Linked DNA regions of Homo sapiens. The protein of the gene in region 2 purifies or fractionates together with the protein of the main gene of each other region. This does not show direct contact. Each region holds a gene or a part of one and is shown on either strand. Other genes may lie near its edges. The genes, in order: CTH and FOLH1.

The links.
Region 1: the proteins of FOLH1 (region 2) and CTH fractionate together in Homo sapiens (co-fractionation; one large-scale study listed by BioGRID). This does not show direct contact.

The regions. Positions count from the first base shown.
Region 1 is NC_000001.11:70,427,965-70,431,781, forward strand, and holds part of CTH (cystathionine gamma-lyase), read left to right. Parts: intron 1-1,829; coding exon 1,830-1,887; intron 1,888-2,352; coding exon 2,353-2,430; intron 2,431-3,817. UniProt on the Homo sapiens protein: Catalyzes the last step in the trans-sulfuration pathway from L-methionine to L-cysteine in a pyridoxal-5'-phosphate (PLP)-dependent manner, which consists on cleaving the L,L-cystathionine molecule into L-cysteine, ammonia and 2-oxobutanoate.
Region 2 is NC_000011.10:49,205,762-49,210,372, forward strand, and holds the start of FOLH1 (glutamate carboxypeptidase 2), read right to left. Parts: upstream 2,842-4,611; 5' UTR 2,649-2,841; coding exon 2,531-2,648; coding exon of another isoform or gene 2,463-2,530; intron 2,135-2,462; exon of another isoform or gene 2,003-2,134; intron 1,114-2,002; coding exon of another isoform or gene 1,017-1,113; intron 412-1,016; coding exon 306-411; intron 1-305. UniProt on the Homo sapiens protein: Has both folate hydrolase and N-acetylated-alpha-linked-acidic dipeptidase (NAALADase) activity. Has a preference for tri-alpha-glutamate peptides. In the intestine, required for the uptake of folate.

The DNA.
Region 1 (3,817 bases), on a different chromosome or scaffold from region 2:
GGCCTCCCAAAGTGCTGGGATTACAGGCGTGAACCACCACTCCCGGCTTGACAGTGTTTTATTAAGTGGAAAGTCTACACTTTTCACTCTGGTTGTAAACAAATACATTTTAAGACTACAGGATTAACCTAGAGGACATTATGTTAAGTGAAATAAGCCAGGCACAGACAGACATATATAGCATGATCTCATTCATGTGTGGAATGTAAAAAATGTTGATCTCATAGAAGTAGTGAATAGAACAGCGGTTACTAGAGTCTGGGGAAGGGAGGGTGGAGGTGGGGAGGACAGAGGATGGTCAATGGGTACAAAGTTACAATTAGAAGGAGGAATAGAGGAATAAGTTTTGGTGTTCTACTGCACAAAAGGATGATCATAGTTACAATAAGATACTGTATATATCAAAATAGGAGAGAGGATTTTAAATGTTTCTACTACAAAGAAATGATAAATATTTGAGATGATGGGCATGCTAATTACCCTGCTTTTGATCATTACACAATTACACATGTATTGAGCATCACATTATACTCCATGACTTAAAGGATTAATTTACAGGAAAATTGGGTGAAAGAAAACACTTTTAAAAATTCCTTTTCATTTTTATTTTTCTTAATTCTCCCAGTTTCAGACATATTTATTTATTTATTTATTTATTTATTTGAGACAGAATCTTGCTCTGTCACCCAGGCTGGAGTGCAGTGGTGTCATGAAAAGCTCACTGCAACCTCTGCCTCCTGGGTTCAAGTGATTCTCCTGCCTCAGCCTCCTGAGTAGCTGGGATTACAGGTGCGTGCCACCATGCTCAGCTAATTTTTTTGTATTTTTAGTAGAGATAGGGTTTCACCATGTTGGCCAGGCTGGGCTCAAACTCATGGCCTCAAGTGATCCACCCACCTCAGCCTCCCAAAGTATTGGGATTACAGGTATGAGCCCCCGCACCCAGCAAATTTCTTTCTTTCTTGTTGTTTTTTAAGATAAAGTCTTGCTCTGTCACTCAGGCTGAAGTGCAGCGGCTTGATCATGGTCCACTGCAGCCTGAAACTCCTGATCTCAAGTGATCCTTCTGCCTCAGCCCCCTAAATTGCTGGGATTACAGGAGTGAGCCATTCTCCAACTCCCAGCCGTCTAGATTTCTTGTAATACCTAATACAATGTACATGCTTTATAAATGGTTGTTACACTATATTGTTTAGGAACTAATGACAAGAAAAAAGTCTGTACATGTTCAATACAGACACAACTGTTCATCTATTTTTCCAAGTATTTTTTTACCCATGGTTGGTTGAATCCATGGATGTGAAACCCACACATAGGAAGGGCTGAGTAATTAGGAATCAAGATCATGACAAACCCCAAATGTAAATAATCACAGCATACGTCATGAGGTTTTAATGATTAAAAATCTAAGCAGATGAGTTTATACTTACTCTACATAAAAATTGCTGAATGTTCATTTCAACTATTTTATGTGTTTAATGAGTCATAAAATACTAGAGTCTCTACTGTAGGTAATAAATTTAGAGTCCTGTCAGCAATTGCTATAAAGAAACAGGTTCAAGAGACCAGTTGACCTGGGCTTATCTGCGCTTTCCAAGAAACTTTTGCCTTCAGATTCAATACTGGATTCAATACTTTACATTTTTCTTTGGTGGGAGGGAGGCAAAGGAGAAATAATATCAGAGATCCTGGAAAATTTTAAGATGCACATACTTTTGCAAAGTTAGTATTGATTAGAATAAGAATGGAATTTATAATTGCAAATAGGCAGGTAATGAAGCATATTTTCAAATTGTTTCTCATTTAAAGTAAAAAACTTGTTCTTTCAGCGCCCTTTGGCTCTGGGAGCTGATATTTCTATGTATTCTGCAACAAAATACATGAATGGTAAGATGCATACTTTGAATGTTCTTTTTCATGGATAGGTGAAAATTGCATAGGGCTTGGCTTTTGATCCCTTTTCTTTGATTATTTTGTAGATTATTTCCTGTGACTCATAGAGAGAGTAAAAAAAAAAATCCTTTGATTAAATGTAGGATTTCATTAACAGTACACAAAACTATGCTCATGATTTATGAGAAGAGGATTAAAGTTGGCCATAAAAAGTTATGCTTTTATCTTGCTGACACCTTAAAGAAACATTTTGTTTTTATATAATTTTTATTTTCTTGTTTTAGACATAGCTTTTGCTACTGTCCAGTTGAATAAAGGTTACTTAAACTTATTTTATAGAGCTTTTTCCCTGAGAGTTTTTTCAAGTGAAAATCACATTTTGAAAATTATAAAATAAAGAGTAAACATAAATTGTTTCTAACTGAAATTTTTGTTTGTTTGTTTGTTTTTTGTTTTTAGGCCACAGTGATGTTGTAATGGGCCTGGTGTCTGTTAATTGTGAAAGCCTTCATAATAGACTTCGTTTCTTGCAAAACTGTAAGTATTAAAAAGTGCAGGTTCCCTATGACACTCTCAGTGACTACATTTGATATTTGTATTTCCACTAAGTGATGTGAAGTGATGGCATTCTAATAATTTATGAAGAAATGAAAAATAGAGGAGAAAAATTCTGATTTTTTTTATTTATTAATTTTTTTTTTTGAGATGGAGTTTCACTCTGTTGCCCAGGCGGGAGTGAAGTGGCGTGATCTCAGCTCACTGCAACCTCCACCTCCTGGGTTCAAGCGATTCTCCTGCCTCAGCCTCCTGAGTAGCTGGGATTACAGGTGCCCACCACCATGCCCAGCTAATTTTTTATATTTTTAGTAGAGACGGGGTTTCACCGTGTTGACCAGGCTGGTCTCAAACTCCTGACCTCAGGTGATCCACCTGCCTTGGCCTCCCAAAGTGTTGGGATTACAGGCATGAGCCACCGTGCCTGGCCAAAAAAATTTTTTCTGATTTTAGAGGAAAGTGTTATAAAAATAGTTATTGCAGGCTGGGCACGGTGGCTCATGCCTGTAATCCCAGCACATTGGGAGGCTGAGGCAGGTGGATCACTTGAGCTTAGGAGTTTGAGATCGGCCTGAGCAACATGGCAAAACCCTGTCTTTACCAAAAATACAAACCAATTAGCCAGGTGCAGTGGCATGTGCCTGTGGTCCCAGATACTCAGAGGCTGAGGCAGGAGGATTACCTGAGCCTGGGAGGCGAAGGTTGCAGTGAGCTGACATCGTGCCACTGCAATCCAGCCTGGGCAACAGAGTGAGATCCTGTCTCAAAAAACAAAAAACAAAAACGGTTATAGCATAGCAAGGCTTTATGATATGATATAAGAAATGAGTTTTTTTATTTTCATGTCCATCTTAATTATAATCATAATTTGATAAAGCCCTAGTGAATTTTTAGTTTCAAGACTTAATGGTTTTTTTTTCTTTTTTAAAATTACATTTGAAATGAGGGCTTTCATATACTATACCTTTTATATCACGAATGATGGTTAATTTTAAATAGCACTTACAGTATAAACTTACATTTTTCAATAGATGTCTAAACACCATTTCCTATTTACATTGCTTAGTTTATCTCCAGTATAGTTAAAGATTAAGCCATTGTAACTTGACAGGTAAAATATAAACATGATTAGGAATAAAAATGTCCTCCACAAGGGAAACTGAAACTTATTGCTTGATAAGTGTCCTTTGGTTTATAAAAAGTAGAAATGAAGTATATATCCTGGAGGCATGTGAAATCATTGACCGCTTTGCACAAAGGCTAAATAGAATATTAGTAGAATATTCAGTAATAATAGGACTTGAACTGCTGTTTTTCTCTGTATGTTAAAATAATTTTTCAAAGAAATACAAGGTTAGGCTATGAACAA
Region 2 (4,611 bases):
TTTATGTATTTTCTATGACTTCTTTTGTGCTGCAATAGCAGAGCTGACTAGATGTGACACAGATCAGCTGGCCTACAAAGGCTGGTCCTTGTACAGAAAAAGTTTGCTGACTCCTGCTCTAAACCTCTGTAATGACAAAATTTAGCTGAAAGTATAGTCCTCCTCAGATGAAATGTGATCCAAGATCTTTAATAAATAAAATTTTAAGAAAAAAGTCCAGTTCCTATATATAAAATATTGGACCAAAACAGAATGATAAATTTTTCTAACAACTTGTCCATATAAACTTTCGAGGATGTACTTACTATAAGAACTTCTTGATGTTCTCAGCTTTCAATTCATCCAAAAATGCTTTCATATTATGCTTTGGAGTAATGTTAGTAGCTTCATTGGAGGATTTTATAAACCACCCTGAAAAATACATCCAAAAATAGGCATGAGATACGAGCCTATAGATAGGACTTATTTTTCATTATTGTTGTATGTATTATTTGTAAAACACAAATTATCAATATTACCTCTGACATTAGGTGAGATATTTCTGAATTTTAATTTCTCTTGCCTACTTTCACTGAAAAAGAGTCATGCAAACAGATTTTTAAGTTGCAAACCAATTGCAAAATATTTCTTATCCAACTTCAATGATAGGTATTGCTGTTATTCTAAGAAATGTTTTATGAGATAATCAGGACGAAAATAAAATGACATTAATGTTTCAACTAATGGGTGTAAACGAGATGTTCTGAAAATGAAGGCAAAAAGGAGATCCACCTTCTACTTTCATAAAGTTTCTATCTTCCTCTGCTGACTCAAATAAGCATTTAATACATTTTTATAACGAATTAATTATGAATATATTTCAAATAAATAAATTATTTCCAAGTGTTGAAGGAAATTCAGACTTCTAATTTGCTCTGATTCTGAAACTAAAACAAAATGCTGTGAGAGTTTGCGTTTCCAGTGAAGTAGGCGTGAGAAATCCAAGTTCAGACAGCTACAATGAAACTACAATTTACCCAGCCTCTCTGCCAGACACCCAGTGCACGCATAGGCGGCCAGAAACAATGGATAGCTAGATCCTGCAGTCATTAGACCTTGCAGTTGGCTTTTAACCTGAAGGAGATAAGGCAAGATTCCAGGGTTTATTTAGAGAAATTACAGGATCTGGGAATAAAGTAGTTACAAAATTAGTCCCCAACCAGCTTTCATGGAGCTTTCCAATTATTAATTATTCTAGTTCTTAATCGCATGCATACAAATGCACATACATATATACATGCATATTAAAATACATGATTGCACGCAAACGGAAATAAGATTCCACCTGTGCATAAAACAGAAAGACTTGGATTAGAGTGAGGGATCAGGAAACACCACACTGAGGACGAGATGCTTGAACTGAGATCTGAAAAATGAACAGGATGAAGAGGATGGAGGCCTGTAGGGGGAGGGGAGAGCAGAGAATCCTAGTGGGTGGGGGGCGGACATCAATAAAGAACTCTTCTGTGTCAGCCACTGAGCACGGAATACAGGGATGAGAGTGAGGGCAATACCAGGAAGAATAAAATCCTTTTAAGAGATGAAGATTGTTATGAGCACAGTGTGTGGTTCAAAAATCTTTTAACAACCCCAAGGTGAAGCTAGTGGAAGATATTGAATTTGTTTAAACCCATCTGGTCCATGCCCTGTTCTTCTAAATCCCGAAAGAGGGTCAAGAATTCCGAGCAGGAGTGGACTACCTGGTGATACCTTAGACTAGTCCTGTGTATTAAAGTCCAATGAGGAGTATCTTGGTAAAAGAAGAAATAAAGTGGCGAAAATCCCAGTACTGTGCTAGGAGATTTACATGCTATATTATTTACTATTACCAATAATTTGCAGATAATATTATCCTCATCATAAAATAGGGTAACTAACGCTGAGAGGGACTCGGTAACTTGTTCAAGGCCACTAAGAAGTGGCAAAGTCAAAACTGGAATTTAATAAAAGAGTCTGAGCTTGCCTGTGTGGTTCTGCTTTTCTTAGAAAGTTGGATCAAGTCTGCAAATCAGTACCCAGGAAAAACAGCAAAAGACCCGCTGGTAAAGACCTGTCCAGATTGCTGACCTGGTTCACACAGTTCCCAAGCTTGCCTCTGTTACTTCCAAGGAAGAAAGAATGCACAGAGAGGTAAAAAAACAAACAAACAAACAAAACAAAACAAAACAAAACAAAAGCAAAAAAAAAACTTCCTCTGTCTTGCAGGGCTCCAGCACTTGGAACCTTCCTACGCCCAGTTTCAGGTTCTCTCAGTTCTACCCTCAACCTGAGTGACTGTCCTACCAGCAGCTTGTCGAGAACTCAGCCCTGCACCGTTCCCAGCTACCCTCCTCCTAACTCGAGGGGTGCTCACCCCACATTACCCCGACCCTAATCGCCGCCCCTGGGGAAGACCAGCAACAGGATCCCACTCGGCAGCTGACCCGCGAGTCCCAGCACCGCGGCACCACGGGGAAGACTCCGAGGTTTGCTCCGCGAGGCGCCCCCCTACCGAAGAGGAAGCCGAGGAGAAAGAAGCCACCCGCCAGCACCAGCGCCCCAGCGCACAGCCAGCGCGGGCGGCGCGCGGTGGCCACAGCCGAGTCGGTTTCGTGAAGGAGATTCCACATCTCGGCGCGAGCAGAGCCGGCCTCCCGGGACCCGCGCCTGTGCTGCTGCTCTACTGCGCGCCCTCCAACCACCACGGCGGGGTAAAGTCTCTCTCAATCTCACTAATGCCTCGCTTATCAGCCCTGCAGGCTGGAATTCGCTCCAGACCTGGGGTCCAGTTTCTCCACCACAGCAGTGTTTCTAGAGTGCACTGAACCAATCCGAGCGAGAGAGAGAGGCAACATCTGCCTCCAGGAGAAGGAAATCCGGCCCCTTTTGAGAGGCGCCTTAAAAAAAAAAACTTTCTTGGAAAATGTCCAGCTCTTGCTTAAATATAAAAATGAAAGGAAGAAAGAGACTCTCCTCTCTCCACTCCTATAATTATGAGGAACTTTTATTCAACTCTGAAATTCTATACAATCTCTACAATACTCTACTGAATAAAAGCAGAGCAGAAAAAGCTGCGCTTTTTTTCCATAGTCGGGAATGCTTGTCATCAGTGTAAATCACCACCGCGCCCTTTTTCCTAAAGAATATTATTGTTATTAATAAACATGTAGGGTATTATCCTCCACTTACATTACAAAACCATTTTTTAAAGCCGGGCGTGGTGGCTCACGCCTGTAATCCCAGCACTTTGGGAGGCCCAGACAGGCGGATCACGAAGTCGAGAAATCGAGACCATCCTGGCCAACATGGTGAAACCCCATCTCTACTAAAAATACAAAAATTAGCTGGGCGTGGTGGCGGGCTCCTGTAGTCCCAGCTACTCAGGAGGCTGAGGCAGGAGAATCGCTTGAACCGGGGAGGCGGAGGTTGCAGTCAGCCAAGATAGCGCCACTGCACTGGAGCCTGGTGACAGAGTGAGACTCCCTCAAGAAAGAAAGGAAGGGAAGGGAAAGGGAAGGAAGGGGAGGGGAAGGGAGGGGAGGGGAGGGGAGGAAAGAAAAGAATACTGGAACTTGTTGAAGGCAGAGACTTTATTTTCATATCCCGGCTATGTCTGGCTACTGTCTTACGTAATAGATATAAAATCAATCTTGGTTGGATTAACCAGAAGAATCATCATACAAAATTATATCCCCGCTATAAATTCTTAATAATAATAATCGTATTTCAAGGGAGAGAATAGCTACATGCTTTATAAAATAAACTGTGTTCTTATAATCCGTGAGAGAGGCCGTGCATTTGCTAGGAGTACTTTATGGAAGCACTGCTTTTAACAGAACCATAAGGTACAGGTAGGATTTGACCCAGTGGAGATGAGAAGAAACATTAGGGGCCATGGGCCAGCTGAGTAGGCAAAGGCAGAAAACTCAGAGTGTATTCAAGGAATAGCAAACAGTTTGCTTTGAGAAAGGGAGAGCACAGTATGAGTTAAGTGGAAAAAGATGGACTAGATTGTACAGTCTTGGGTGCTTCGATGTAGACTTTCTGAGCAAAGTGAAAAATTTGGGAAAATTAATTTGTCAACAATGAACCATGACAACTCCTAGATGACCTAGGGCAGGAAGGAAGGGAATTTCTTCATCTCTTTCTAACAAAATCCTGAATGTACTATATCTTTCCTAATGTTCCTATTGTCAAATCTAATCAGAGATGGCTAATAATAGTGACTAATATTTAAAGAGCACTTATTATGAGTGATGCATGTTATGTACATCACCTCATTTAATCACCATTGGGACCCTTCAAGGTTTGTTCTATTACTCTTCCCGATTTACACATGGTAAAACTGAAATTTAGCTAGATTAGGTAAGTCATTCGAAGTCACAAAGCTAAGACTTAATATAATGTCTGTCTTACTTTGTACCACTCTACAGTCTCTATTCAGCACAGGATACCTTTATGGAGTTTGCTTGTGGCACTGGAGGGAGCACTGAGTTTGGAGTCAGAAGACTCTTAACAGTCTTTGGACCTGGTCCTGTCCAAGCTGTGTACCCCTGGGTGCTAAGTATTCAACTTACCAGAATATATCTTCTC